Regions from separate parts of the Homo sapiens genome. Here regions 2, 3, 4, 5, 6 and 7 are each linked to region 1. The links come from fine-mapping of genetic effects on gene expression. A gene starts in region 1. Each other region holds a variant in brackets. All regions are shown on one strand. Distances are between the middles of the regions. Region 1 holds the start of ERICH1 (glutamate rich 1). Region 2 overlaps DLGAP2 (DLG associated protein 2). Region 3 overlaps ERICH1 (glutamate rich 1). Region 4 overlaps ERICH1 (glutamate rich 1). Region 5 holds the start of LOC124902053. Region 6 has its middle 77 kb from the start of ERICH1. Region 7 has its middle 93 kb from the start of ERICH1.

Region 1 (4,000 bases):
GGGCCCCCTCATCTCCCCACCTCTCAAAGGCCAGAGCCCCTCGGGGCTTATTCCTTGGACCACTTTCTAAAGTTCACGCCTGCTCCCTTCATGACCTCATATGCTTACTCATCTTATGAGCACCTCAAACTTGACCTGTCTAAAACTGCACACTACCACCAAACGAAGATCCCCAGAAGGCTCTCCACCTCCTCAGTGCAACTCCAGCCTTCCAGTTTCCAAACGAAAAATTTACAGCCATTCTACATTTCTCCTTTTCTGTCACAGCCCAGTTTGATCAATCGGAAAATCTCTTTGGCTTTACCTTAAAACATGTCCACAATCCAACTAGCCCCCCCACCCAGAACCTCCAGTGCCACCACTTGGATGTGAGCTGTCAGCATCTCTTATTGCAGCAGATGAAATCTCCACACTTCCTTCCATGCAACTCTAGTCATCACAACGCTAAATGACTTCTTTAAAATGTACATCAGGCCATGCACAGTGGCTCATGCATGTAATCCCACACATTGGGAGGCTGAGGTGGGAGGATTGCTGGAGGCCAGGAGCTGGAGGCTGTAGTGAGCTGTGATGGCACCACTGCACTCCAGCCTGGGCCAGAGTGAGACCCTGTCTACCCCAAAAAGAAAGAAAATGCATCAGATCATTTCACCCCTTTGCTCTACATCGTGTAACAACTTTCCACCCTGCTTCTTGGAACATGCAAAGTTATCAGGCTCCCTGCAGACCCTGCCTGGGTCTGGGTCTCCTTTCCTCCTGATCTGAGCTCCCCTTATCCTGCCCTTGCTTCTGGTCCCCAAACTCAAACAGGGCAGCCGTTCTCCTGGGACATCGTTTCCCTCCTGTGGGCTCTCTTTCCCTGGGCACCCCCAGTCTTGCTCCCTCACCTACCTCAAGCCCGCGCCCATCACTCTACAGTTAGGCCCTACCAGCTTCATTTTCCTCCAAAACACCCATCTCCGTGGGTTCCTCTCCTGAGACAGCCCACATGAGGAACAGCGCCTGGCACACACCTGGGAAATGTTTTGGAAGAAACGAATTCAAGGAGGAGGGTCCTGAGGGGGTGGAGCGGGAGGGCAGAGGCCCTTGGAGCTGGACAGGGAGACAAGAAGGGGTCTGGCAAGCCGGGGTGACGTGGGGGCCGCTGCCCTGACCACTCCCTGTGTCCCACAGGTGCCTGGGGGCCAGGGACACCGCCCTGGCCATGCCCTGTGTCCAGCAGGTGCCTGGGGGTTGGGGTCACCGCCCTGGCCACTCATGTGTCCAGCAGGTGTCTGGGGACCGGCTGGCCATTCCCTGTATCCTGTAGGTGCCTGGGGGCCAGGGACACCGCCCTGGCCATTCCTTGTATCCTGCAGGTGCCTGGGGGCCGGGGACACCGCCCTGCCCACTCCTTGTATCCAGCAGGTGCCTAGGGGCTAGGGGTCACCGCCCTGGCCACTCCCTATATCCTCCAGGTGCCTGGGGGCTGGGGTCACAGCCAGGGCCACTATCCGTGTCTCGCAGGTGCCCGGGGACCGGGGACACCGCCCTAGCCACTCCCTGTATCCTGCAGGTGCCTTGGGGCCGGGGGCACTGCCCTGGCCATTCCCTGTGTCCGGCGGGTGCCTGGGGGCGAAGCGGGGACTGGGGATCCGCAGGTGCACCCGTGGGGTTGGGGGTGGGCGCCTCTCCTCTGGGGCCCTCCGTTCCCCTCTTCTCCACAACGCCCTCCCTAGCGTTCGCCCCCAGAGTTCCGCCACCGCGTAGAGCAGTCGCCGCCAGCGCTCTCACAGCGTCCTCAGGTCCCCAAGAGCCCGCACCGCCGCCCCCGCAGCCCTCCCTCCGCGCATGCTCCACAGCGGGGCTCCCAGAGGCGGGTCTGGAGCCTCGCGACACGCCTACAGACTCGATATCAGCCAATCTACGGCCGTGATGTAGTTGACTGACCGCCCGTGGCGGGGTCCCGTATTCGGATTGGGCATTCCTGCTGTTGTGGGCGGACCCAGGAGGGCGGAACCCGGAAGGCACGGCGCTCAGCTCAGGACCGCGCGCCGTGGTCTGAGGTCCGCGGCAGGGTCCCGCATGGCGGCGCACAGGAAGCACGGTAGGTGGGTGCGGTGCGGAGGCCTGCCCAGACCCCAGACCCGGCTCTCGGCTCAGACCGCGGTGTTGACTCGGGACCCCGACCCCGGCCCCTTTCCAGGCCCCACCCCAAACCCAGACCGACTCCCCACCTCCACCCCAGTCCCTACCCATCCCCCGCTCTTACCCCGGACCGCGGCCCACCCCTCGCCCGTGTTGTTGCTTGCATGGCTGCTGGTCGGGCCGGCCCTGCCAGGCCCCACCTGGTGTCTGGGGTCCTGGGCGGAGGCGAGCCCAGCCAGGGATTCGTGTTCTTAGCAGAGCCCCTGTTGGTGAGTGAGTAGGAGCCGCTCAGCTCTTCAGAGGGGTCCTAGCCCAGGGCTCCGGGGTGGGGCTGCAGCCGGCTCCGGCAGCCTCACCGAAAAGTACAGCAGAACCTCCCAGAGCCACTGTGTCCTCATCTGAGAGACGGAGGTCATGGTGTTTACCTTCAGTGGACCTAAGGTGTGGGGCGCATCCTAGTGCTTATTAAATTCTGTGATAGCATTAGTACCAAAGACAGGAGGAGAATAAATAGAATTGGTTAACCTGGCCGTGCCTTAGAACGGAAGTGTTAGAAAATAAAGCGTGCTCCTGCTTCCTGCAAACCCCAGCTCATTACCCTCACCGTGTAATCATCATCATAATGAAAAGAGTGGCGGTTTTTGACATGAATCTCGTGTTACTTGGATTAATTCAGGCGCTGATGAATTTTTTTCCTTCTCTATGTTTAAAACTGATAATCATGTTTTTCCCTTTGAAATGAAAAGATAATGGCAAACTATAGTTATAAAACAATTGCTTAAAAAGAAAAAATTTCTCAGTGAGGCAGAATGTGGAGAAAAATATGGTCTCAAGTCTTCCTTTTCAGGGACACACTGCACGTGGGCTTCCCCCTCTCCTTCAGGACCAGGGAATTGTCACCTGATCAGCTCACAGGTTAAAAATGACCTAAGAGTTTTTAAGCAGTCACATGCTAGGCTCTAAAATGGACATTCACGTATGTTAATGAGCACCAGAAATACCTTGTTCATGACCCTCTCCTGGAAGCAGGGCTGGCAGGCTGTGAATTCAGTGTCGAGGTTCTTAGGAGCAGACCTGACGGTCAGCTGCCTGCAAAGCTGTGCCTGCCTTCTTGGTGGGGGGCTTCTTGCTACTGCAGGTTTTCTCCTTGTTTTAAACCACAACACACTCTTCTCTTACATTCCTTCAAATGTTTGCACTCTTCTAAGCCTGGAATAAATGCTCTTCTCTATGCAAGAAATTATTATAGCATCTGTAATGTACCTAATCAACTTAAAAAAAAAACCTTTCTCCATTCACCAAATTAAAGTGAATGAAAGCTGTTAATTGTTTTAGTCATTCACTAATCACCTTCCCTCGAAACAGCCTTTTTTTCCTATTGGATATGTGACAGAATGGTCAAGTAAATTTACGTTGTTTAAGGACATTGTGGTTGGAAGGATAGATTAATAAATCCCAAAAGTTTATAAAATGTAGGTGGGAAAGAAAATATTAGTTTTCTGTGTGTCTTCCTCAAGATCACCTGAAGAGCCCATCGGCTGAGTGGCACTTAGGCTCTGAGAGGCACTGAAGGGAGGATTTAGCTGGAATAAAACTTCCCAGCATTTGTGACCTGATGGAGCAGGAAACTGGAGTGTGTGTCTTCTTCAGAGCATTTCCCTTCTGCGTGGCTTGCAACGAGTGAAGTTAGGGGAAGGTGCCGCAGGAGGAGGGGATGGAGCTTGGCGTGTCCCCTTGCAGGGATGTCTGTTTTCCCAAGGTCCAGCTCAGGGTCATGGGGTGGTTGCAGGTGGGGGTTGGGCGCTGTTGTTGATGGTGGGAGAGGAGGCAGGTGCCACAAGACGCAGGTGTGCCTCTCCTGGAGCAGACCCCA
Region 2 (4,462 bases), 120 kb before region 1:
AAGGCACTTATCCCACCTGTGGCGGCCCCACCCTCATGACTTCATGACCTCCCAGTGGTCTCTCCTCCTAACACCATCACATTGGGGGTTAGGGTATGAATCTGGGGGACAAACCTTCAGCCCACCACAGAGAGAATCAACATAAAGAGAAAACTGCCTTGTTTCTGTAATGCCCTGGTTCAGTCCCTAGCAATCAGGGCATGAATACTGAATTCTTATTAAATTAAATGACAAACACATCCTCCAGTGATTTAAAGTAGTTAAGCCTGTGCACGGGGCGGTGTGGCTGCAGGCCTGAGACTGCTCCCTAGAACGGCTGCTTGCGAGGCTGGCCCTGGGCTATATCTGAGAACTTGGATGTCGTGGGGGGTCCCACCATTCCCTAACTGATGAGGGGTGAGTCTGGCCCTGGGCTTCATCTGAGAACTTGGATGTCGTGGGGGATCCCCATCATTCCCTAACTGATGAGGGGCATCCTGTACCTAAGCCATCTGTGCAGATGATGTTTATACCACACACCTGCTCTCCTGCTGGCAGGGCTGTCTATCTGAGCAGACCCCAGCACAACCCTGGGCACCGTGTCTCTCACAAGCTTCCTGTTGGACGACATGCGTGGTCACAGCTTGATACTGGCAGAACCAAGCCCCTCCTGGGACTCTGTGGGGAACAGCTCTGGAAGCTTCCATCTCGTTTCCCTGGACCTCCCTCCTCCACCTTCTCCCTCTGATGACCATGCTCCGCGTCCTTTCTCTGTAACAACTCACAGCTGTCCTGCAGCTGTGCCGAGCCCTGGGAGTGCTCCCAGTGAATCACGGAACTGTGGGTACTCTTGGGGACCCCAACACACACCTAAGTGCAATGTTAGACTCATACTCTAGCACCCAGCTATTATAAACTAAGCACTGAATTTCCTCTTTTGCTCCTAAAGTATCTGTAACTATTTAATGTGTCACTACAAAGCCCACTGCCCCAAAGCAGCCAGTCTGACCCATCTGCGAAGATCCAGCGTCATGCTGCACATAAGAACAGCCAGTTTTACCAAAATCTGTTGCAGAAATAACGGAATCGGCCAGGGGATCCATAAACAAAAACAGCACAAAGGTAAATGAGGTCCTTTTGTGAAGCAACAGTAATTCTACATCAAGGACGTTGTCATTCAGAATGAAACTGTGCTACTTAGATTTCCCAAGGAAACACTCGCCCGAGAATGCACTCAGCCTTGCTGGGTTTGGGTGGATATTTTACCCTTTACAGAAACGTTGAAGTAGCCAAGGTGTTAGCATGACATCTGCGAACATAATCAGTACAAATCCCGTCTACTGGGAACATAACACTCTGTCCGCAATTTATACAAAAGCCCACGAGGCTGAGAGATGTTGATTTGCTCATTTACCACAATCAGACAATCGATTAAGCTGGCAAGAGAAAGAGGAAAATGACCCACAGAATCTTGAGTAAAATCAAGCTAATAATTCATTACAATTTACAGCTGATGAGCAGATAAAAGACGGACAAAAGAATCATGATGGTTTCATTGGATTTGCCATTAGTGTTCTTTCTTCCATCTGGAAAACTGAAGATCACGTGTGAAAAGCCAATCTCAGATTTCAAACAGGAGGCTACTGTGGTTTCATGACAGCTCAGTGGAGACAGGAGGCAGAGCCCCAGGCCTGTGGCCTCCAGATCCACGTGCAGGGAGAGGGGACACGGAAGTCTGTGTCATCCACCAAGACAGAGAAAGGTGAGAGAGACAGATTTCCTATCCCTCAGAGCAATTCTTTAAACTGTTTTTGACATGTTTTTTTTTTAGCTTCCAATGTGTCCCTTCTCAAAATCTCTGCACACACATAAGAGGAAATCAAAATTTACACCAAAGCCAATTCTCACAGCTGGCAGGAGGCTGCATGCCTTTGTTGTCCACAGGGCAGGTGGGAGCTTGGGTTTAGGGGCTGAGTCCCAGGACCGCCGCCCACTAGCTGAGTGCCCTGACCAA[G/C]TCACTGCACCTTCCCAAGACCAGTGTCCTCGCTAATAAGAGAGGAGTAATAATAAAGACAGCTCCAGGTATTAGTGAAGGTGAGAGGGAAACGCAGCGGGGGCCCCCTGCAGCTCCCGCCACCCAGCAGTCACGGAACAGTCACTGCTTCCCAGCTCCGAGTGTGGTTCCTGGCATCTAGCAGGCTGCGGGGCACGTGGCGTGGTCTCCGTGAATCGTGTTAAATGAGGGAGGAAATCTATGCCCCTATCCATAGCCACAAATCACACAAAACTGCATGCTTTCTGGCACTTGATCTGAGCAATTCGGCAGCTGGATAAATAAATGTGACAAGTTTTTTGAACAGAGGCTGAACTGACTAGTCCACAAATCCCAGGAACTAATCTCAGAACGGTGTTTGTAAATGTACACAATAAAATACACAAAAAATTATACTGAAATGATCAAATAGTCTTCATCATAATATACTAACATAGGTGCTTCCTATTAACACATTATTTTAAATTACCTAGTAGCAGGGAAATAGCAGCACCCATTCCAAAGCAGCGATGAGCTTACATGTCGCTCACAGGTAACACAACACTGACGTGATAAGAAAACACAGTCAGTCATACGTCGCTTAGCAATGGGGCTACGTCCTGAGACATGCGTCACCAGGCGACTTTGTCAGGGTGCGAACATCAGACTGTACTCACACACACCTGGATGGTGCGTTCTACCACACCCCTGGGTTGAATGGCACAGCCCACAGCTCCCGGGCTGCACACCTGCACAGTGTGTGACTATACTGAACACCAAAGACAACTGTAACACATGGCACTTGTGCATCTACATACAGAAAAGTCTTCTCTCAACAGCAAACACCTATGGCACAAACAAACAGAAAAATCATATGTTAAAAACATGTTGTTTTGATACAGAGAACTCCATCTGGACAGTGCATCTTTCATCTTTTGCTGCGTCTCTACTTGTTCATCACATAGCTCTGTACATGGCCTCTTTGCAGCATTTTCTAAGGTGTGAATCTTGGCTATTTCAAAAGTGAAAACAGAGAGAGTGAAAGACAATATTTTGTGAGAAAAATTTGTTACCAAACTTTACTAACTTACCTCTGAATTCTTTAAAGTGAAAAAAAAAATTTTAACTATTATTTTAGGAAAATTGAGACAATCACAGTGCATTACAACACTGTGGCATACTTTCAGGATTAGCCTAATAGTAGCCAGATAGTTTCGCAACATTTAAAATTTCATGCTATTATAAAATAATTCTAAAATACATAAAGGCCAATAATGCATATATTGCTTTCTGGGGTCTAATTTTCTTCTAGGTAAAATAAAGCATGCCAACATTTAATTGGGCTATTCAAGCAACAGCCTCATTTCATACACACAGACACACAAATATACATAAACATAGATACATACTCTGACAAATTGTGAAAAGAAGTGTTTCCCTATTCCAAAATATTCTTATTAAGAATTAATTTAAAGCTTTCTGTGAAACAATAAAAACACTTAAAAGCAAATTTGATGATTTTTTTTCTTAAAATACATTGTAAATTGGAAATAAAATTTCTGCACAAAGTGCAGAAATCTTTCAAGAGGCAGCGTAACTTTTAACTTGTAGCAACAGGTGGAAGGTTCAAAAAATTGCTTTGAGATAAACTCCAAAAGCACAATGCATTTAAAAATGTGATAAACTGGACATTATGAAAATTAAAATATTCTATTATTCAAAACACTGTTTTGACACACTGTTAAGAAAATGAAAAGACAACGCAAAGGTGGGGGAGATATATCTGCAAATGTCACATCTGACAGGGGACTCAGACCCAGAATACAGAGGGAAGTCTCAAAACCAAACATTAAAATACAAACAACCTAGTTTTTTTTTTTTTTTTTTTAGACAGTCTCCTTCTGTTGCCCAGGCTGGAGTGCGTGGCACAATCTCAGCTCACTGCAACCTCTGCCTCCCAGGTTCAAGCAATTCTCCTGCCTCAGCCTCCCAAGTAGCTGGAATTACAGGCCCACAGCACCAGGCCCAGCTAATGTTTGTATTTTTAGTAGAGATGGGGTTTCACCATGTTGGCCAGGCTGGTTTGGAACTCCTGGCCCACCTTGGCCTCCCAAAGTGCTGGGATTTCAGGTGTGAGCCACCGTGCCCGGGCAACCTAGCTTTTTTAAGTGAGAAAAAGATTTGAACAGACATTTCATGGAAGAGTAAAGATGGAAAGCAGGCACATGATAAAAGTTCCTATGTCATCAGTTATCAGGGGAAATGCAGTAAAACCTTGAAAGAGATACAACTCTCCACTATTAGGACGGCTGGGAGACCATTAGCCCAGGCTACAGGGGTCCTGGAAGGATGTTGCACCGCTGGAACCTTCGGGCAAGGCTGGTAGAAACCCAAAAGGGCAGTCAGTTTGGAAAGCAGCTTGGCAGCTTCTCATAAAGTTAAACATACACT
Region 3 (4,462 bases), 26 kb after region 1:
TCTATTTTTTCTTTTGTTGCCTGTGTTTTTTATATCATATTTAAGACATCATTGCCTAATCAAAGGCCACAAAGATTTATGCCTAGGTTTTCTTCTAAGAGTTTTATAGTTTTAGCACTTATGTGTAGGTCCTTGATCCGTTTTCAGCTGATGTTGTGTATGGTGTGAGGTAGAGTTCCAACTTCATTCCTTTGCATGTGGATATCCAATTGTCTTAACACCAGTTGTGGAAGACATCATTTCCCCATCAAGTGGACTTAGCACTCATTGAAAATCAGTTGGCAGCCAGGTGCGGTGGCTCACACCTGTAGTCCCAGCACTTTGGAGGCTGAGGTGGATGGATCACTTGAGGTCAGGAGTTCGAGACCAGCCTGGCCAACGTGGTGAAACCCCATCTCTACTAAAAATACAAAAATTATTCAGGCATGGTGGCAGGTACCTGTAGTCCCAGCTACCTGGGAGGCTGACGCAGTAGAGTCGCTTGAACCCGGGAGGCAGAGGTTGCAGTGAGCCAAGATCGCATCATTGCACTCCAGCCTGGGTGATAGAGTGATACTCTGTCTAAAAAAAAAAAAAAAAAAGAAACAAAAAAAATCAGTTGGCCACAGATGTGGGGTTTATTTCTGGACTCTCAATTCTATTCCATTGATGTATGTCCATCCCATGTCTGTACCATCCACCATCTTGTTTTGATTGCTGTAGCTGTGTACTAAGTTTTGAATTGAGAAGTGTGGGTCCCTCAACTTTGTTCTTTTTCAAGACTCAGGGTCTCTTGCAATTCCATATTAATGTTAGGATCAGCATGTCAATTTCTGCAAAAAAAAATCATTTGAAATTTTGATGGGTATTGCATGAGTTTGTAGAACACTGGGCAGTATTGTCTTCTTAACACTATTACATTGTCCAGTCCCTAGCTTTAGGATGTCTTTTTGTTTATTTAAGTTCTTTTTAATTTCTTTCAACCATCTTTTGTAGTTTTCAGAGTGCAGTTTTATCTTTTTGTTGTTGTTGTTGTTTTTGAGATGGAGTTTCACTCTTGTTGCCCAGGCTAGAGTACAATGGCATGATCTTGGCTCACCACAACCTCCGCCTCCTGGGTTTAAGCAGTTCTCCAGCCTGAGTAGCTGGGATTACATGCGTGTGCCACCACGTCCGACTAATTTTTTTTGTATTTTTTTAGTAGAGATGGGGTTTCTCCATGTTCGTCAGGCTGGTCTCGAACTCCCGACCTCAGGTGATCCGCCCACCTCAGCCTTCCAAAGTGCTGGGATTACAGGCGTGAGCCACTGCGCCTGGCCTTATCTTTTTTTATATTTTTCCTTCCAGTACTTACAGGACGTAGAAAAGTTTTACCGTTTTTTAAAAAGTGTATTCCAAAGTATTTTATTCTTTTTGGTGCTATTGTAAGTGGAATTGCTTTCTTTTTTGTTTGTTTTCTTTTGGGAATGTTCAGTGTTTGTCTGTGAAAATGCAAGGGATTTTGTGTATTGACCTTGTATCCTGCGGTTTTGCCTAACTAGTTTATTAGCTCTTACATTTTTGTTGTGGATTTCTTAGATTTTCTATGTACAGTCACACATCACTTAACAACGGTAATACATTCCAAAGGAGTCCATTGCTGTGTGAGCAAAGTGCGCTTACACACACTAGACAGTGGATCCAGCTGCAGGCCTGGGCTGTGTGGCACAGCCTGTTGCTCCCAGGCTGCTCGCCCAATCAGTACATGCCTGTGCTGAAGACAGTGGCAACTGTAACACCATGGTGAGTGTTCATGCATCCAAACATTAAGAAGGTGCGGTGAAAATACAGCGTTATCATCTTCAGGGTCCGCCGTCCTATATGCAGCCAGCCTTTCAGCATCCAAACATTAAAAACGTACGGTGAAAGTGCAGTGTTACCATCTTCAGGGTCCGCATTATCTTAAGGCTCCACCGTCCCCCATGCGGCCAGCCTTTCACCAGTGTCTTTTGTGGTACATCACTGTGCAAGATGCTGTCATCTGTGATTTCGGGTAGTTTTACTTTTTCCTTTGTGAGTAAAGATAGTTGTACTTTCCCTGTCCAGTCTGGATGCCCTTTGCTTCCTTTTGTTGTTGTTGTTGTTGACTAATTGCCCTGGCTAGAAGTTCTAATACGATGTTGACAAAAAGTGCCGTGAGTGGGAATCCTGGTCTCATTCCTGATCTTGAGGAGAAAGCATCCCTGTTTTCACCATCCTGTATGATGTT[A/C]GCTGTGGGTTTCATACGTGGCCTTTATCATGTTGAAGAAGTTCCCTTCTATGCCCAGTTTATTGATTTTTTTTTAATCATGAACAACATATTTTTGAAGTGCTGTGCCTTGGAAATGTTAAAGGAAAAATGTTATAATTTACTTGCATCTGGAAAAAGAGAAGTCTTGGCCGGGGGTAAAATGATGAAATCACAATAAAAAACGTAAGAACCGTGGGTCACTTCTGCACGGGCCATCGCGCAGTGTCCGTTGAGATGCACGTCCAGGAGGAGTCCTGCTGGATATCAGGGCTGGGCCGAGTGGCGCTCTGTGAGGGACAGGAGGCAGCCGGATGAGGAACAGTGCCCACATCCGTCCTTGGACATGAGACGGAGGAAAATGTTCTTGTACGGTTAGGTCAAAGCATGGTAATTATGGCAATGATTTAGCCAATTGATTGATATTTGTTCACTTCACACGATCTGTTTCTTTGGTTCTAGAAGAGTGTTGATAATTCCATTTGTCCCAAAGATAAGACTGATTTGTCAACAACCAAAATAACTGGTGTATGTGCATTTTGGTAAACTTTTTTCACTGAAGAGCCCATATTGAACTTTTTTTTAAATTTGTCAGTTATGTGTTGCATATATTTTAGATTCAAATAATTCTCAGGAATTATTATTAAAAACAGCAATGTTCTGCCCATCACTCCAGTCACACACCCTCCAGCTCTGCAGTGGCTGCTCCTGGGTAAAACCACCCCCCCTTTCAGAGTCACGCACTTACACTGTTGCTTCCTGTTTTCTTCTTCTTTTTCTTTCTTTTTTGGCAGGGAGGGAAGGGATTAAATCTTATGTATTGACTTTGGAAACTAAGGATTTTGGTTTTTTTTAGCAGCTTCCCCCACCATGGATGCACATTTTTTACAACCCCCGTCCTTCCAATATGATTTTTTCAAAATGTTTGTACATCAGTATTGTTTACATGTTTATGTCTCCGTAAACACCGTTTCTTGCTGAGTCACATAACACACGATTATTCCGTTTTGTGAAACCTTTAGTGGAGTGAGCAGAGCTTTAGTAGAGTTAATAGTTTTCTTGGATTTTTACATTTTCTTCTAAATACTTAATAGTACTAATTTCTCCCCTCACCTCCCTGTCCTTGTTCTATGGTCAGACACATTCAGGGTCAATGAGCTTCATCTTCCGTGGCCTCTTCCAGACTGTTCCACCCCCAGCATGGGCCGCCCCCAAGTCCTTGCCGTAACTCCCGGTCTCACCTCTCCCGGGGGCTTCCTTTGCTGTCCTGGGCCTCAGTCTTTTCATTTCTTGGGTTTGCTTCCATTTTGTTGAAATGCGTTCGTTAGTAACTTCCTGAAAAATGGTTTTTGGGAGATAAATATTTTAGAGATCTTGAAGGTCAAGTATACCTTAATTCTTGTACTTAAAAGTTTTTCGGGGTGTAGGATTCTGGGCTAATAACTGTCTTTCACACTGGAAGTCTTTAACATCCAGTGTCGCTGTGAGAAGGCAGTTGCCATCATTCTCGATTCCTGTGGCTATGAGCAGTTTTCCTCCCTTAGGACAGTTTGAGGTTCTGCTTCTGGCCTTCATGTGGGTGCAGCCTGATGCTGAGGTCTTGAGCATGGTCTGTTTTCATCTGTCGTGGCCTCCGTAGTCTGGGAACATGTGCCACTCTCTTGTTTCCTTGATCGTTTCCTCCTCTTTGCTTTCAATCTTCGGTTTACAGAATTCCTGTCATTCAGACATTGAGTCTCCCAATAGATCCCCTTTTTCTTACATCTTCTCCCGGATTTTTTATGGTTTAGTGATTTGAGACCACTTTCTGGGAGATTTTCTCAAATTTCATCTTCCACCCTTCCGGCTGCACCCTTCGTTTTTGTCACTGCGTCTCAGAGTTGGAGCGGGAAGGAGGAGAAGAAGGGTCTCTCACACTCTCTATGGACAGGCTCTCCCTCCCTGTTTATCTTATGGAGTCTTTGCCTTCAGTTATGGTGCCTGGGGCTCCTGGGAGCCAGGCCTGGCCTTTGCAGAGAGTGAGTCCCGGTCTCCCACGGGTGGTGGGGAGGCTTCCACAGCCTGCCTGCCCCCCTTTTTCTCCCCACTTCCAGGCTCCTTGGCGGCCCCTCTGGAGCAGATCTCGTGTCTGCTGTGTCTCGGCTGCCATTCTAGGATTCAGCATCCCGTCTACTTTTCACTTTCCAACACTGTATTTTTTTCATCTGTCCTTCATTT
Region 4 (4,462 bases), 61 kb after region 1:
CATAGAACGGATGCACGATTTCTCAGCATGCATTATTGTGCAGTTGTTTGTACTGACATAAGATAAGGAAAATAAACATAGGTTTAATGTCACAGATGGCACTTGCTTACATCTGCACTACGCTTTGTTGACAGCTGACCTAGGGACACGTGGCTGCCCCAGAACAGAGATACTCACCGTGCGCTGGCTTCCTGGCTTTCTTCTCTTTAATTTTTTTTAATACTGTTTAATTTTTGTGGGTATAGGTGTCTTTTCAATGACGTTACCAGCAGGTTCAGGTTAATGTGGTGGGTTTAGCAGATCCAGATTTAAGCAAGGCATTTGATGGTGTTCTTATGAGCAAGATTGAGAAATATCAGCTATGTAATAATTTGGGAAGTAAGTAACTGATTTTAACAAAGATGCAGAAGTACCATTTTTAATAGATTGATTTCAACACGAAGAGCACTCTAGCCTCTTCCTCTTTAGCGTGTTTCTCAGCAGATTGTATTAACAAATTGAAAACATATATCCAGATGGCACATCAGGAAGACATGGCTAAGACACTGCAAAGTAGACGCAGAATTCAGAAAGATCTCAGTAAACTTTCTATTCTGTGTGTGATCGAGCAGCTTGGGGCAGACCAACAGTCATGCCAGGAGTAACCAGAAAGCCAGGATGGGAAACACCTGTTGAAGGGATCAGGAAGCTACTCAGGAAAACAGCTCATAGAAAGATGGAACTCCTGGAACCCTCACGGGGAGATTATCATGGAAACATCTGCAGCCACTTGTCTTCAGGAATCTGCAAGTCCTGTGTGTGGGCGTTGGGTGAGGGTCTGGGGAAAGGACCTGGTGGAGCCCAGAGAGGCAGAAAAACCAGCCTCACAGGTTGAGAAACCAAAAGCAGAGCCTGGAGCCCAGTGAGCACAGACAGAGCCGGGGCTGGCAGGTTCAGAGGTCGCAGCCTGGAGCCCAGTGAGCACAGACATTAGAGCCGGGGCCGGCAGGTTCAGAGGTCTCAGCCTGGAGCCCAGTGAGCGCAGACATTAGAGCCGGGGCCGGCAGGTTCAGAGGTCTCAGCCTGGAGCCCAGTGAGCGCAGACATTAGAGCCGGGGCGGCAGGTTCAGAGGTCGCAGCCTGGAGCCCAGTGAGCACAGACATTAGGGCCGGGGCCGGCAGGTTCAGAGGTCGGAGCCTGGGGACCAGTGCGCTCAGTGGTCGGAGCAGGGGCCAGCGGGTTCAGAGGTCAGAGCCTGGGGACCAGTGGGCACAGACATTACAGCCAGGGCCGGCAGGTTCAGAGGTCGGAGCCTGGAGCCCAGTGAGCACAGACATTAGAACCGGGGCTGGCACGTTCAGAGGTCGGAGCCTGGGGACCAGTGAGCACAGACATTAGAGCCGGGGCCGGCAGGTTCAGAGGTCTCAGCCTGGAGCCCAGTGAGCACAGACATTAGAGCCGGGGCCGGCAGGTTCAGAGGTCTCAGCCTGGAGCCCAGTGAGCGCAGACATTAGAGCCGGGGCCGGCAGGTTCAGAGGTCGGAGCCTGGGGACCAGCGCGCTCAGTGGTCGGAGCAGGGGCCAGCGGGTTCAGAGGTCAGAGCCTGGGGACCAGTGGGCACAGACATTACAGCCAGGGCCGGCAGGTTCAGAGGTCGGAGCCTGGAGCCCAGTGAGCACAGACATTAGAACCGGGGCTGGCACGTTCAGAGGTCGGAGCCTGGGGACCAGTGAGCACAGACATTAGAGCCGGGGCTGGCAGGTTCAGAGGTCGGAGCCTGGGGACCGGTGGGCTCAGGTGTTGGAGCAGGGGCCGGCAGGTTCAGAGGTCGGAGCCTGGGGACCAGTGGGCTCAGGTGTTGGAGCTGGGGCTGGCAGGTGCAGAGGTTGGAGCCTGGGGGACCGGTGGGCTCAGAGGTTGGAGCAGGGGCCGGCGGGTTCAGAGGTTGGATCCTGGGGACCGGTGGGCTCAGAGGTCGAAGCAGGGGCCAGTGGGTTCAGAGGTCAGAGCCTGGGGACCAGTAAGCTCAGATGTTGGACCTGGGGCCAGGGGGTTCAGAGGTTGGAGCTGGGGCCGGTGGACTCAGAGGTCAGAGAACAGAACTCAACACTGCATGGCTTCCCTTAGAACCTTTGCCCAATTCTGAAGCTGTGGGTGGAAGATGAGAAGCCACACAGAGAGCCTCCGAATAACATAGGAGCCTCTTGGCCATCTTGAGGTGCTGATGAGATGAGGATCGGCCTGACCCTCGAGCCCAGCAGAGCAGGGCAGCCCAGAAGCAGATGACACTGTCCCAAATGTGTGGCCACCCTGGAGTCAGCTCAGTCCCTGCACGGTCC[A/G]GGGGATCCCCCTCTACTCGGTCTGCCTGGCGGAGCAAAGGGTGAGCCCTCTAGAGGAAAATGTCGCCATCCTAGACCTCTGCAGTCTTTCCTATGCGTTCAGCAACAGTTTACCGGGCATGCCACGAGACAGGACCACAGCACCGAAAACCACGAGAAAAAAAGAGCAGTAGAGCCACAGTGGGAGAGGCCGATGTTATCAGATAAGGAGCCTAAAATAAGGGGAAAAAGGAAAAATTGGAGCATTTCGCCAGGTAATTTGAATCTACTAAAATAATCAAATGGAAATTTTAGGCCTGAGAAATATAGTAACTAAAATTCAGGCCTCAAAAGACAGGGAAACAGCAAATGAGAGTTGGTATAAAAGAGAATTAGTGACCAGGAAGACAGGTGAAAGAAAGTCCCCAGAATGCAGAGTGGAGAGAAAACGGGTGGAAAACACAGGAAAGAGCCCGGCAGACATGGAGTGGGAAGTTGTGTCCCTGAAACAGGCCCAGGTGGAGAGGAGAGAGGACGGAGCGGGGGCAGGACGGAGATGTGACATTTGGGAGTTTTACACCATTGTTACAGGACACAGAGTCACAGGTTGAAGAAGTCCTGCCAAGTCCAAGCAGGGTTAACGCCGAAACCACCAGAGGCAAGTGAATTGCAGTCATACTGCTGAACAGCAGCCAGAGAAACAAGACCAGCAGCCAGATCCAGGGGAAGTCGGGGGCTTGTTTTCAGTTCTCCTTGATTTCTTCTAAACAGCCACAGTCTGATTCTTTTTTTAAGCGATGTGATGTGGACATAGAGAGCTTGCTTTCATTGTCTGGTTTAACCTGCTGCTGTTCGTAGCCCTGAGTCGTGTGTTGGACAGGGAAGGCGTCTCACCAGACAGAGGTGTAGACGGGCCAGGGGAGGCGTCCCACCAGACAGACGTGTAGACGGGCCAGGGGAGGCGTCCCACCAGACAGACGTGTAGACGGGCCAGGGGAGGCGTCCCACCAGACAGACGTGTAGACGGGCCAGGGGAGGCGTCCCACCAGACAGACGTGTAGACGGGCCAGGGGAGGCGTCCCACCAGACAGACGTGTAGACGGGCCAGGGGAGGCGTCCCACCAGACAGACGTGTAGACGGGCCAGGGGAGGCGTCTCACCAGACAGACGTGTAGACGGGCCAGGGGAGGCGTCTCACCAGACAGACGTGTAGACGGGCCAGGGGAGGCGTCTCACCAGACAGACGTGTAGACGGGCCAGGGGAGGCGTCCCACCAGACAGACGTGTAGACGGGCCAGGGGAGGCGTCTCACCAGACAGACGTGTAGACGGGCCAGGGGAGGCGTCTCACCAGACAGACGTGTAGACGGGCCAGGGGAGGCGTCTCACCAGACAGACGTGTAGACGGGCCAGGGGAGGCGTCTCACCAGACAGAGGTGTAGACGGGCCAGGGGAGGCGTCTCACCAGACAGAGGTGTAGATGGGCCAGGGGAGGCGTCTCACCAGACAGAGGTGTAGACGGGCCAGGTTTCCACAGTCGTTCATGCAGTGGTATTTTGTGCTGAGCTCTGTTCTGATTCTCTCTTCTGGTAGCTTCTCATCTCCCAGATATGTCATTCTGTGTGGAAGCGTAGGTTTGAGACCTTCCTTAAGAGAGGAAAGCTTATCTTTAGTTTATAGAAATAAAAACAAAACTGTATTTCCAAGCAAAACTGACTTTATGTAGGTGTCTCCAGAGATGCAGCTTCAGCTGCCCTCGCAGATGCCGCTGAGGAGCTGCTGGACCGCCTTGCGTCACACAGCATGCTGCCCTCAGACGTGTCCATCCTGTACCACATGAAAACGCTGCTGCTCCTGCAAGATACTGAGAGATTGAAGCATGCTCTGGAAATGTTCCCAGAACATTGCACGATGCCTCCTGGTAAGTACCGTACGATTTATTCAAGGTCCTGCTTAAGATACTCTCATCGAGGTTTGCCTCTGAAAGACTTACACGCCACCAAAACAGCAATGAGTTGGAAAATATGACACTGCACATATGGCATGGGAGAATAGAGTCCCAGAGAGAAACAGGCTTCCTGCATCTCTGCTTGATATAAAAATATTTCACATAATATATGCAGAAATGCATGTGCAGTCTAAGTTTCCGGACTTGGGAGCTGTCA
Region 5 (4,462 bases), 71 kb after region 1:
AGCCTTTTCCTGGGTTGCACAGAATCCCTGCCCTTGCAGGGGATGGTGGTTCACATGTGGCCATTTCCTGGGTTCCACAGAATCCCTGTAGGTTCCACAGAATCCCTGCCATTGCAGGGCTGGTGGGTCATGTGTGGCCTTTTCCTGGGTCCCTGTAGGTTCCACAGAATACCTGCCATTGCAGGGGTGGTGGGTCATGTGTGGCCTTTTCCTGGGTTCCACAGAATCCCTGTAGGTTCCACAGAATCCCTGCCACTGCGGGGGGTGGTGGGTCACGTGTGGCCGTTTCCTGGGTTCCACAGAATTCCTGTAGACTCCCTTCTTGCTTCTGTGATCCTGTGGGGCTTTACTTTGCGAAACCTTCTGCATTCACTTTCCTGACCCTGAGAATATTGAGGAATAGAGGTACAGTCGAGCAGGTGGGATGCTCAGGGTTAATTCGTTTTGTGTATCATTCTGATTCCAAAAAGGAAAATGCATCTTCTACAAAACAAAAGCAAATAAATCTTGTCTCTAATATGTCAGCATAGATATGATAATCTGTTTATTCCACTGTGTTTGAAGTTAGATAATAATTAGATCAATTTATCTTCTACAATAGTGCAAAATATTCAGTTCATGTAATTTATTTTCTGTAAACCACGTCAATTAAGACAGGCAGAGAAGGAAACAGTCAGGAGCATGAGGAATTGTCAGGTTGCCAATATTAAGACAGTTGTGCCTAGAAGGAAAAAAACACAGAATATCTGAGCCTGTCAGTACTGCTTGCACCCTGGGACCTCCGCCTGTGTCTGCAGAGCCTGAGAAGAGAGGGCTTGCACAAGCCGGTCTCTAATTTGTTTCCCAGGCCCAGCTGCCGCCAGGCTCCAGGGCAGAACTGTGGTGGGTTCAGGAGACTCCAGGGCCCACAGGGTCAGTTCTGGGCTTTGCTTTTTTGTGCAGCTCTTGCCCCGAGCGCTCTCCAGGTGACATGTCCTCTCATCCCGGGGCTCTTCAGAGAATCGCAGGAATGTGTTCCACCCGCTCCAAAATAAGAAATGTGCATGCATCTGCCCCGCCTCGCACCAATATTGGGTACAGCTTTGAAGGGGTCAGAAATTCCTCAAAACTTATTCAACAGGATACTGTGGTGCAGTGAGTTCCCTACCAGGTTACTTAGGGCTTTGGTCCACTGCGTGAATCCTGAAGGCTGAGAGCGAGCCAAGGTCACAGTGCCTGGCGGAGGAGCAGGTATCCCAGGAACCCGGAGCTAGCCTGAGAACCGCCCAGGACCCAGCGGAGGAGCAGGTATCCCAGGAACCCGGAGCCTGCCCGAGAACCACCCAGGAGAGCAGTCCCATATAGCTCATGGCCGGCAACGAGACAGGGAGCACAGGTGGAAGCAGCTCGAAAGCTGCGGATCTTAGCGCTGTCCTGAGGCTGCCCAGGCAGGCTGTGTCCCAGCCATTCTTTCATCTCTTGCTCCCTCCCAGTTTGGGCCAGGGCCAGGGATGGAGGAAACTGAATTCCAAAATTTTTATTGTAAAAAAAATTAATTTTCTTCTTCTGCATAACAAATGACCACAGGCATAGTGGCTTGAAACGACACCATTTGCCGCCTCGCAGTGTCTTTGGGTGGGGATTCAGTACAGCCCGGGCTGGGACCTCTGTGTGGGGACTCACGGGCCGCCAGCAGAATGCTGTTCGTGTGGCCGCAGGACAGAGGCTCCGTGTCCTTGCTGGCTGATGCTGTGGCCGCTGCCACACCTCAAGGCACCAAGTCCCAGCCCCGTGGCCCCTCCAACCTGGCAGCCGACCTCAGGGTGGCAGAAGAATCTTCTGGTATGGAGAACCTCTTTTTAAAGATGTCATTTGACTCCATCAGGCCTGCCCAGGTAATCTGCCTGTTGTTAAAAGTCAAATATTACAATAACAACTGCCAAGCCTCATCACAGGTGATGGCCCCAGGTGTGTGTGAACATGAGCACATGCTGGAGGGGAGGCCATGACACTGGGCAGGGGCCAGGGGGAGAGTCGGGGAAGGCCCTGCCTTCGGGAGCTCAGCCATGACCCCGGGCAGGGGCCAGGGGGAGAGTCGGGGAAGGCCCTGCCTTCGGGAGCTCAGCCCCACCTCGTTGCCTCAGCACAGGCCTCTGTTCCACTGCAGCTGTATCTGGCACAGTGAGTTGATGAGGGGCTGCCCCCTTCCCTTGGGGGGCTTGAGGCCAGGATCCTTGTAAGGGATTGAATGAGGACACAAAGGAAGGGAGACGGACAGACAGGGAGCA[G/C]CCTGCCAGTGGAAGCCTCGATGGTCACCCCCTCCCCAGGATATTCAGTGCACACTGGAGATCTCGATGGTCACCCCCTCCCCAGGATGGTCAGTGCACACCGGAGATCTCGATGGTCACCCCCTCCCCAGGATGGTCAGTGCACACTGGAGATCTCGATGGTCACCCCCTCCCCAGGATGGTCAGTGCACACCGGAGATCTCGATGGTCACCCCCTCCCCAGGATGGTCAGTGCACACCGGAGATCTCGATGGTCATCCCCTCCCCAGGATGCTCAGTGCACACCGGAGATCTCGATGGTCACCCCCTCCCCAGGATGCTCAGTGCACACCGGAGATCTCGATGGTCACCCCCTCCCCAGGATGCTCAGTGCACACCGGAGATCTCGATGGTCACCCCCTCCCCAGGATGGTCAGTGCACACCGGAGATCTCGATGGTCACCCCCTCCCCAGGATGGTCAGTGCACACCGGAGATCTCGATGGTCACCCCCTCCCCAGGATGCTCAGTGCACACCGGAGATCTCGATGGTCACCCCCTCCCCAGGATGCTCAGTGCACACCGGAGATCTCGATGGTCACCCCCTCCCCAGGATGGTCAGTGCACACCGGAGATCTCGATGGTCACCCCCTCCCCAGGATGGTCAGTGCACACCGGAGATCTCGATGGTCACCCCCTCCCCAGGATGGTCAGTGCACACCGGAGATCTCGATGGTCACCCCCTCCCCAGGATGCTCAGTGCACACCGGAGATCTCGATGGTCACCCCCTCCCCAGGATGCTCAGTGCACCGTGGAGATCTCGATGGTCACCCCCTCCCCAGGATGGTCAGTGCACACCGGAGATCTCGATCGTCACCCCCTCCCCAGGATGCTCAGTGCACACCGGAGATCTCGATGGTCACCCCCTCCCCAGGATGCTCAGTGCACACCGGAGATGTGGGGACCCTACCAAGATGAGATGATGGAGTCCCAGCTCCTGAAATCCAGAGCCTGGTAAGGGCCCCTGGGTCGCAGAGCAAGTGAAGGAAAGGCAGAGGAAGGACGGCCAGGGAGGAATTGGGGAGGAGCCAGCTCGGGCCCCATAGCAGGATAAGCAAAGCCCACAGCCTGGCATCCTCATGTCCTGCAGGTGGAGTCCCCGATCGAGGCCTTGCCCTGAGGCTGTGGACGACACCTTCTCCCTGAGTCCTCTTGTGGCCTTTGTTTGTACCAGGGGCATCTCTAGGGTCTTGTCCTCCTCTTGTCCGATTGGGTCAGGACCGCCCTGATGATCTCATTGAGGCCTGGTCACCTCCCTAAGGTCTTGTCTCCAAATGCAGCCACATCGGGGGCCAGGATCAACATGGACGTGGGCCGCGGATAGTTCAGCCCATGACACAGGAGGAATAATTTGAGGAGAGGAACAGGAGAGAACTGTGCCTCGGGGATGGGATGAGGGGTTTGGGAAGAGGGGTTTGGCCCACAGTGCCAGGTGTTCAGGGAGGTCGAAGCCCCTGCTTTACACTGGACTGGACTCGGGGCCTTGTGTCTCCACCCCCTTCCGGGGCTCTGGCCTGACCACCCCACAGGGCTCACAGTAACCCACCTCCCGGGAGGCCCAGTGGAGGCCAGGCTGGCAGTCTTCTTCCTGCAGGGAACCAGCCTCTCTCCCCAGTCACCTGGGGGCAAATGAGAAGGGGAGGGGCAAGCAAGGGGCCAGGCTGGGCCCTCCTGTTCCTGTGGTGAGGGTGGGTGAGGAAGTCCAGGAACCACAGTCCAGCTGCAGCCGAAGCCCTGGAAGCCAAAGACTGGGGCCCAGCCAGAGGCCACTTGGGCACGAAGAAGGGCAGCAGCAGCCGGAGCTAAGAATGGCCTCTAGAAAGGGGCCGTGCCAGCCTCTCTCTCAAACATGGTCCGTGGGGATCGGGTGGGGCCCCTCCTGGATGCCCCTTGGGGGCTGGTGGGCCCAGCCTTGTATTTGGACATTAAAGGCAAAGGAAACGCCAGCCAGTCAAACCACCTCTGCCATTCTTCCTCTTCTGGGAGTGGCTGGGGTTGAAGGCAGTGCTCGTGTTCATGGCCCTTTCACTACGTCTGATTTGTCGCAGATCCAACAGCATCTGGGATCTTCCTCTGAAAATCCCTCTCATTATCGCAAGGAATTCCTGCACATTACTGAGTCCTTTAATTTAACATGGCATGACATTTATATCATT
Region 6 (4,462 bases), 77 kb after region 1:
ACAAAAAAGTGGGGCAAACAAACATAGAGATGACAGAATTAGCAAAGTGCTTTGTCGTCCCCAAGGGAATAATAACCAAACCCAACAAGGACGATCCGGATGTTAAAATCACTGGGTCAGATATTTTGGGGAAGGGGAGAGTCCCGAAGCCTCACCTTACCCCACAGGTGACTTGCAGATTTCGAAGGGGAGGAGCAGCTTTGCAGGGGGGATCCAGCTGCTGGCACTGAGCACCCAGACGGGAGGCTTGTAGGGGAAAACAGAAAAAGAAGGAACCGGGGGAGTTTAGAAGATGCTGTGGGGATGAGGGGCATGTCCCTCGAGGACCGTGCCAGCAGCGAGGCCATTCGGAGAAGACCTGGGAATGGCTGTGGTCACAGGCAGTTCAGACCTGGCGGGCAGGTCTACAGCCTGATTTGGGGAAGTCTTGAGGCCATGAGTCTGCAGGCACAGAGACAGCCCTGCAGCAGCATCTGCGGAGGCTGAAGAGGGAGCCCCTGGTGTCCACCTGGGCAGGGGGAGGGACCTGTTGCGATTGGGTGTAACTGCGAGAACAGCATAGTGGATGGGCGGTCTCTGCACCTGCGTGTGTGGAGGGAAAAGTAAGACAGGAAAGGATGTGTCATGAAAAACGTGGTCGTGAGTTAAAAATGAGGCACATACAACAATAGAAATTCTGCAGGAATGTATTTAAATAATACACTGTCTACCGTGTGTGACTGTGCATGAGAGAGGAGTGGAATGGAAGTGGGGCACAGAGGAAGGAAAGAAGGAAGGAAGGAAGGAAGGAAGGAAGGAAGGAAGGAAGGAAGGAATGCAGAGGACAGAATGAATACAGATAAGGAGTGAGCAAGCCAGAGAAAAGGCCACACATGCCCCCAGAATGATCCCCCGTGATGAAGGTTGCTGCGTGATCCACTCGGCCCCTGGGTCCCAGCAACTGACCACAGCAAAGAAGAAAAGAGGAGCTCCTGCAAGGGCAGGTGCTGGTGCACCATCGTCCAGAACACGAAACGCACACGTAGGTAAGAACGTAAGTCTATGTGAGAGACGGGCAAACAAAAACGAGTGAGACTCCTATTACATACGCTCCTGGGTGTGCTGACGTACAGAAATCCTCTCTGCAGGCTTAATTACTATCTGCCGTGTTGGATTTGCTTACAACCTGCCTGTGGCATGAGGGCGTCTGAGCGTAAGAGTGAAAGAGAATTTTAGAATAAGTTGGACAGCGTCTGTCTCCTGTCTAGAGACAGCCAAGTCCTTGCTGTTAGAAAGGCGAAGCTGAAGAACAAAATCAAACGCGGCTGCTCTTCCTAGTCCCTTGGGGCCGACTTGGCGTGGGCTTGGCCTGAGGTCCCGTCGTGCATCTGGGCTCGGCAGAGACCACTCGGGGTTGGTTTTCCTTTTTGTTGTTCTCCACGGCTTTCTGTAGTGAGCTGGGCTGAAGGGAATTTGTTACTAAAGATAATTAAAGTGCCCAAGTGAGCACCAGGGCGCAACTCCCCAGGGGGCTGGCGTCCAGCCTGAGAGGATTTGGTCACCGCAAGCAAAGCCATTGTGACCCGCTGTCTCCAGCTTGGCAGGTGTTCCCGCCTCAGGTTCCTGCTGGGGGGACAGCAGCTACTCGGGGGGTCCTCTCCTGGGGCAAACCCATGGTGTATCTACCTGCACTGCCACCATGGACACCACTGCCTGCCCCTCCCAGCAACGGGGACACTGTGGTGTCAGCCCAAGTCCTTGTGGGGACATCTCCATGGCAGCCTGGGGGGGATGTCACTGTGGTGGCCTCGGGGACGTCACCTAAGCCATCTCTGGTAGACAGTGGGAGGTTCCTTTCCATCTTTCCCTTCAGTGTGTGTCTTTACATAGTTGCCAATATGGATCCATAATTTTTTAATTTATTTAAAACTGTAGTCAATGTTTTTTGATGTAT[G/A]GCATACATATAGAAAAGTACATAAAACATAATGTCACAGCTCCTTGAATTCTCACAAAATGCCGAGACCCCTGTAACCCACACCCAGATCAGGAAACAGCCCTCCCCAGCACCGTAGCCCCTCGAGGAGGCCCCGTCCCAGCTCTGCCCCTCCAGTCCCTCCAGGTTTTCTCTTACCAAGCCTCTGAAGGAGCTTCCTGGCCATCCATCCTAATGGTAGCACAATATGCTAGTAAGTTAACGGGCCTCAATTAACTTAGCTATTCCTTTATTTGTGAACGGTTACGTTGCCTTAGGATGAACAGGGTCTTAAAGCCTTTGGCGTATTTTGCATTATTTTCTTATTTAGATTGAAAGAACTGGGGCTTTTGAGGCAAAGTCTACTATACTTTAAAAAATACATTTGTATTGTGATACACATACTGTAAAATTTACATTTTAAAATGTAGAGTTCCCAAACCTAAACTCTGTCCCCATCAGACAGGAACTCCGCAACCCCTCCCTGCACCTGGCAGCCACCAGCCATCCTACTTTCTGTCTCTGTGGCTCCGACTTCTCCAGGGACCTCTGCTCAGTGCCACCCTGCGGGATTTGTCCTTCTGTGACCAGCTCATTTCACCCAGCATAACATCCTCAGGGTTTCTCGTGTTATAGCCTGTGTCCAGATTCCCCTGCGCGCATGTGGCAGCCACCAACCATCCTACTTTCTGTCTCTGTGGCTCCAACCCCTCCGGAGACCTCTCCTCAGTGCCACCCTGCGGGATTCGTCCTTCTGTGACCGGCTCATTTCACCCAGCATAACATCCTCAGGGTTCCTCGTGTTATAGCCTGTGTCCAGACTCCCTTCTTTTTTAAGGCTGGATCATATTCCATTTGTTAAAAGAAACACTTCAACTGAATTAAATTTAAAGGAGTTTAATTGAGCAATGAATGATTCATGAATCGGGCAGCGCCAGAATCACAGCAGATTCAGAGAGACTCCAGGGATTCCTCGTGGTCAGAACAAATATATAGACAAAAAAAAGGGGAAGTGATATATAAAACTCGGCAGTGAGGTACAGAACAGCTGGATTGGTTCCAGGTTGGCATTTGCCTTATTGGAACAGTTTGAACACTCGGCAGTCTACGCATGGTTGACGTATGGCTGCTGGGATTGGTCAAGACTCGGCCACTATTACAGGCGCAGACTCCTGAATTAGGTTTTCAGTCCTGTCTGCTATTAAGGTAGGTTATAGTTCGTCCACAAGGACTCAAACATAGACGTCCTGGCATTCTTCTCAGGCCACATTTAGTTCGTGTTAGCACATGGCACTGTGTTTGTCCATTGATCTGTAGATGGACATGGTGCTGTTTTCACCTTTTGGCTGTTAGAATAATGTTACTCTGTACATGGGTGTACAAGCACCTGTTGAGTTCCAGCTTTCAGTTTGGGGGTTTATGCCCAGAAGTGGAAGGGCTGGATCATACGGTAATTAAATCTGGGTTTCATTTTCTGAGGAATTTCTACCCCGTCTTCCACAATGGCTGTACCGTTTTTCATTCCCAGCAACAGCACATGAGTGTGCTCATTCCTCCTCATCCTCTCCAGCACTTATTTCTCGTTTGTAAAAATATATGATAATCATCCTGATGGTTATGAAGCAGCACCTCGTGGTTTTGATTTGCATTTCCTTGCTGATTAGTGGTGCCGGACATCTTTTTGCGTGCGTGTTGACCTTTGTCTATCTTCTTAGGAGAATTTCCATTCCGGTCCCGTGCCTACTTTTGGGTTGTTTTGTTTATCACAGTTTTTATAAACCAGTTCTACATCAGATGAGCTGTGTGCCCCTGGTCTCTCCAAGTAGCTTAAATTCTCTGAGCCTGAGGCATCTCCTAGGAATGAAGACACCCTGTAAGCTCAACACCATTATTCATGCCTAAGACAACTACACCAATTCCCCAGCTTTTGAATGACCATAGGAATTATCAGCAGAACAGGACACTTTGGAAAGTGAATGAGGTGGGATTAATAATTATGCGGAAACAGCAGGTGTGAGCCAGAACCATCCCAGGCAAGCTCGTGGTCACTTTATGTGATATCAACTCCACTCCGTTCCTATCTAGATTTCCCCACTGTCCCCAGCACATCTTTCCAACCAGCAGCCAACAACGGTCGGGCTCTGCATTTGGTTGCGAGCCTGTGTTGTCTCATTTATCTCTGTCCACTGCTTCCCTAAAGGTGGTGACTCTGACGGGGCCAGGCCCCAGTCTTGCTCTTGTAGAACAGCTTCTCCCTCCATCACGTAACCTTTCCTCCTGCTGGCTGCATTTCCTGCCACCGGAAGTAAGGTCTTCAGGCGTCGGATTCAGAGGGCACGTGGGTGCAGGGTGAGTTCAGGGAAGGCGTCGATGGGGTGGCATGGAGCACCAGGGCAATCGCTTGTCTGAAGAGGTGAGTGCAGAGCCGTCGGTGGTAAACCTATGCAGAGATGCCCCAGCGCCCGCAAACGCTCTGCCTCCAGGTCCCCGGATGCCTCAGCAACTGCCAAC
Region 7 (4,462 bases), 93 kb after region 1:
CATAGTAAAATCTCATTACAGAATGTTCCTTGACTTTGGCAATTTTTCTGGGTCACAAGCAAGAAAAAAACATAAGCAGGCGGAGAGAGCTCGCCCTGCCACCTGGGGCTTGTGTGTCAGCAGCTCCAGAGAGGAATTGGGATGTGAAAAGTTCAGCCAAAATAGAAAGAATTAACATTTTTGCTATAAAAAAGGAGCATCTGCTGCCTTTTCATGAGGACCTTCTCCATAGGGGTCCTTTGATTAGGCGGCATTCCACTCAGTTTCTCGGTTATCTCCCAGTTCTGCCACTGACTGCTTCCATGTCTCAGGCAAGTATTTCAGCCCCCTGAGTTTCTTCCTCTGTGAAGTGGGGATGACAGCTGTGTGGTACAAAATGAGCCACTCCCCATCAGGGCTTGGGACATGTCACGGGCACACACAGGGCATGTGTGCGGCAGCTTTTAGGGAGCATTATTCTTCTTTGTCTCTTGAGAATCTTACCTGGAAACACAAGCTCAGGAAATAAGAAACTTAATTAAGGCCAGGAGGCTAGTGAACAACAGAGCTGGTTCTGAAAAACCGGCTGCCTCTGAATCCAGGGTGCTTGGTGTGTCTGCTCACTGGATTCGTGGCTGCCTGTGAATCCAGGGTGCTCGGTCATGTGTGCTAACTGGATTGGTGGCTGCCTCTGAATCCAGGGTGCTTGGTTGTGTCTGCTAACTGGATTCGTGGCTGGCTGTGAATCCAGGGTGCTTGGTCGTGTCTGCTAACTGGATTGGTGGCTGCCTGTGAATCCAGGGTGCTTGGTCGTGTCTGCTAACTGGATTGGTGGCTGCCTCTGAATCCAGGGTGCTTGGTCGTGTCTGCTAACTGGGTTGGCGGCTGCTTCTGAATCCAGGGTTCTCGGTCGTGTCTGCTAACTGGATTGGTGGCTGATGACAGACCGGCTCTTTGATATTTTGTGGTTTGCCCAGAGTGACAGCCCAGAGGCTCAGAATTCTTAGTTCAAAGTGCTTTTCAAATCATCTCCTCATTTATTTCTCTATCACTTCTTCTAGGAAGATATTTCATCCTGATGGTATACATTGATATGTATACCTTGATATGCAGCCTGGGAAGAATAAGCAGCATGACCTGGGGTCACAGATGCTCTGCGATGGGATGAGTGGGAACACAGCTGACCCTGGGGTCACAAGGACCTCAGTGATGGGATGAGTGGGAACACAGCCTGCACTTCAGACCCAGATCCAAGTGTCTTTATCTGAGTAGAAAAAGCAGAATCCAAGACCCGGGCTTTGGGCATTTCCAGCTTCCCCAGATGGGGAAAAGCCAGTGCCAGGTGGCCACGCTGGGGACATTCATGACCTCAGCAGCATGGACCGTGGTCTTCAGTGAGGCCTGCTTGAGAGACGGCTTCCGTTGCAGTGTTGTGGGCAGGTGGGGCGGTGGTGACTGGTAGGGGGGCAGTTGTGAAATGTACCTGGAAAGATAGGCGTTTATGGGTTCAAAACTGTCTTGTCAGGAGGGAACCAAGTGTGGGTCAGAACAAGGCCACGGAGGCAGCGTCCACTGAGCAGCGATTGCGCACAAGGGCAGCGGGTGACTGCCGTGGCCTTGCTCTCGATGACGACAGGCCGGGGTCAAAATGAGTCTTCTGGGTCAATGCTGACGCAACGAAAGGGTGGAATGGCTTCAGGGATAACCACGTTCAGGTGGGTTAGACACACCTCCTGTGGGAGGAGTGATTGCAATTAGCTATCATAAGGCAGGAGACACAACAGCAACTTAAATTATCCACAAGCAGAATCATGAGCTGTTTGCAAAGGGAGTTTCCATCGCAAGACAGTTTCACTGTATTTAAGCGAGATCCTGCCCTCGTACACGATCACAGCTCAGTGGACGCCACCTCCGTGGCCTTGTTCTGACCCACACTCAGTTCCCTCCTGACAAGACAGTTTTGAACCCACGAACCTTCCCAGGTGCATTTCATCAACTGCCCTCCTTTCAGGCACGACCGGCCCACCTGCCCACCGCACTGTAACGGAAGCTGTATCTCAAGCAGGCCTCCTCTCCGAAGAACATGGCCCGTGCTGGCTGAGGGTCTGAACGTGCCCAAGCGTGGCTGTCTGGTGCTGAGCTTCCCATCGAGCCCCAGGAATGTTGGAACTAGCCCAAAGCCCTGTAAGCAAGGTCTTAGGACACTGGGAGGCTCTGAAATCACAGATGTAAGTAAAAGATAAGAAACGCCAAGGCAAGGGCCAGGCGCCCCACACGTGGTAGGAGCTTCTGCAGGATGCTGGGCCCTTCCTCAGCAGGTGCTTTGCCTGGGTTGTGCTCCCGCAGCCTGACTGCTGCCCCAGGTCACCGATGTAAA[T/A]GACTCAGGACCTCCTAGAGAACAGGCTTCTGTGTAAAGTCATTATTTTGCTTCCTCACCAAATCCTGCCCCTGCAAAGCAGTCCACAGAACTTAGTGGCTTGTTAAAGGTGCATCTGTTGAATCAAAGTCCTCAGCAGAAAGCCTGGCCCCTGCATTTTGTTCGGCTGCCTGCAGTGGCCAGAGCAGGCTACATGTTGAGAGCAGGACCCTGGCTGCTGTGCTCTCGCACGGCTGGTGACTACAGCGGGGTCTGGACGTCAGGCAAGCACTGTTTGACTCCCGGCTGCTCCACTCCCCAACTGAGCAGCCGTGGCTTCTGTGGTAGGAACTGCCAGATGCCCCCCAGCTTTCCTCCTGCTCCCAGGCACACGGTGGGGCTGTGTTGCCCTACCCCACTAGGTTCTGTGGCCCTGTGAGGTCATCCTCACAGCTGAGCACCCCACACAGCTTCCCTGCCCTCTTCTTTTGAATTCAGCATCTGCAGTGGCCATGAGCAGAGCCAGACAGCAGGAGCTGGGCCCTGGACGACTCCACGGGAGAAACAGCCACAACAGGCATGTGGGGCTCTGATTGTAGGCGAGCCGGCTCTGCAGGGATACAGAAATCCACCCCAGGAGTGGCGAGCTGCCCTAGCAAAACCCCAAGCACGTGGTGAGGATGGAATGCTGGGCAGCATGAGAGGAGACACATGGGGCTAGAGGAACGTGTAGCCCAGGAGCCGCAGAATCAGGCACAGCTGTGGCTTTTACCCACTCAGGCCACTGAGGTCCCAGGGTGGCAGCTCTGGGAAGCAGCTAGGAATGCAGGATGCCGGGGACGAGGCTGTTGGTTGCAGAACCCCACCGGGTGTTTCACAGAATGAGTGTGGCCAGATCCAGCCTGTTTCCAGCAGGGCTGACACAACTACAGCCCCGATGGGCCCAGAGAAGCCACAGTGGCTGCAGAGAGAAGAGAGAAGCAGAAACGTGTCGTTAGCCTTCAGGCAACAGGAAGCAGCCCTGGTGTGGTCACTGCACAAGGAACAGGCTTGGTGAGCTGGTTTGGACGCCTTCGGTGCGTTTGCAATCTGGCTTAAAGTCCTGAACCAACCCTCCGACCCTGCAGAAAGTGGACTGTGCAGGCTGGGAAATGCTGAGAAGGAAGTCCTGAACCAACCCTCCGACCCTGCAGAAAGTGGGCTGTGCAGGCTGGGAAATGCTCAGAAGGTGACTCCCAACACGTGGCCTGGAAGTCATGGAGGATTCTGGACGGGAGGGCAGAGCCCAGAGCATCCCTCCTGGCCCCTCAGGGGAGCACGTCTGGGGCCTCATCAGGGAGCTGCCTGCCGAGGCCAGGTCTGCACCGTTCCTCCCCAGAGGTCACAGTGTCGGAGGCTGCACAGCCACTGCAGCAGCGACCCTTTATTTGGACTGCGCTTTTGTTGTAGGTGTCCTGTCTGCTGTTGTGCATTTGGTGGGACAGTGCTGAGGGTTTGGTGGACAGGGCTGAGGGTAAGTGGAGGGCTTGTGCTCAGTGCACAGGCCTCCGTCCGTGAGGAGACTCTGTTGGGCCCACGTGGGGCAGAACCCAGGCAGATGCCCCGATTCTGAGCTAAAGTCGGGAGAGGAAGGCACTCTGGGCCGTCTCCTTTGGGAACAGCTAAGAGTATTTTCTATGAGGGAGGAACGATGAAAAGGCATCCCGTGACCAGAAGGACAGTCTCTAGCAGAAACCATCAATGATTTCCACACATCCGAGGCCTTGGCTCCCTGGTTGTGGCTGCACCTAGTTCCCAGTTGACGTGCAACCCCACGTGGCCACGCAGCTGAGCTTCAGGGAGGCTGTGAACGCCCAGCTCGGCTCAGGGCCATGGAGGTGGTTGGGGCGCAGGGATTCAGCTCGGCCCAGGGCAGTGGAGGTGGCCGGGGCGCAGGGATTCAGCCGCCTTAGAGCGCGCCAGACATTAGCCCCAGGCTGAGTGTTTTCCACAGAGAATGCTATTAACAGGATCCCAGCTTTTGCCTCTCTGAGAGATGGCATGAAGGAGCCCACAGCCTCGTTGCACCAGGTGGCCCTGGCAAGGTGCAGCTTTGGGCTGTTTCTGCCGAGGCGGAGGCCTTCTCGC

The links. PIP is the estimated chance that this variant, and not a neighbour inherited with it, causes the effect.
Region 2: its variant is the best candidate, but not a certain one, in a credible set for the expression of ERICH1 in whole blood (TOPMed, PIP 0.54).
Region 3: its variant is the best candidate, but not a certain one, in a credible set for the expression of ERICH1 in whole blood (GTEx, PIP 0.73).
Region 4: its variant is the best candidate, but not a certain one, in a credible set for the expression of ERICH1 in esophagus muscle (GTEx, PIP 0.64).
Region 5: its variant is the best candidate, but not a certain one, in a credible set for the expression of ERICH1 in whole blood (TOPMed, PIP 0.83).
Region 6: its variant is the best candidate, but not a certain one, in a credible set for the expression of ERICH1 in amygdala (GTEx, PIP 0.59).
Region 7: its variant is the best candidate, but not a certain one, in a credible set for the expression of ERICH1 in CD4 T cells (CEDAR, PIP 0.85).

Annotation. Positions count from the first base shown.
Region 1 is chr8:729,226-733,225 of GRCh38, reverse strand. It overlaps ERICH1 (glutamate rich 1), which reads left to right and starts at 2,002. Exons shown (of 6, transcript NM_207332.3): 1 at 2,002-2,086. The coding sequence starts at 2,065.
Region 2 is chr8:849,497-853,958 of GRCh38, reverse strand. The region is part of intron 1 of DLGAP2 (DLG associated protein 2); the gene reads right to left. Among named protein-coding and RNA genes, the nearest start is that of DLGAP2, 110 kb to the right of the region's middle. The variant G/C (reference allele first, on the strand shown) is at 1,994.
Region 3 is chr8:703,328-707,789 of GRCh38, reverse strand. All of the region lies in intron 2 of ERICH1 (glutamate rich 1), which reads left to right. Among named protein-coding and RNA genes, the nearest start is that of ERICH1, 26 kb to the left of the region's middle. The variant A/C (reference allele first, on the strand shown) is at 2,228.
Region 4 is chr8:668,354-672,815 of GRCh38, reverse strand. It overlaps ERICH1 (glutamate rich 1), which reads left to right. Exons shown (of 6, transcript NM_207332.3): 5 at 4,024-4,218. Among named protein-coding and RNA genes, the nearest start is that of ERICH1, 61 kb to the left of the region's middle. The variant A/G (reference allele first, on the strand shown) is at 2,320.
Region 5 is chr8:657,728-662,189 of GRCh38, reverse strand. It overlaps LOC124902053, which reads left to right and starts at 2,228. Exons shown (of 1, transcript XM_047422538.1): 1 at 2,228-3,229. The coding sequence starts at 2,228. The coding sequence ends at 3,229. It also overlaps a transcript of ERICH1 not described here. The variant G/C (reference allele first, on the strand shown) is at 2,268.
Region 6 is chr8:652,014-656,475 of GRCh38, reverse strand. It overlaps a transcript of ERICH1 not described here. Among named protein-coding and RNA genes, the nearest start is that of ERICH1, 77 kb to the left of the region's middle. RefSeq lists enhancers at 3,830-4,329, 4,330-4,462. The variant G/A (reference allele first, on the strand shown) is at 1,934.
Region 7 is chr8:635,967-640,428 of GRCh38, reverse strand. It overlaps a transcript of ERICH1 not described here. Among named protein-coding and RNA genes, the nearest start is that of ERICH1, 93 kb to the left of the region's middle. The variant T/A (reference allele first, on the strand shown) is at 2,357.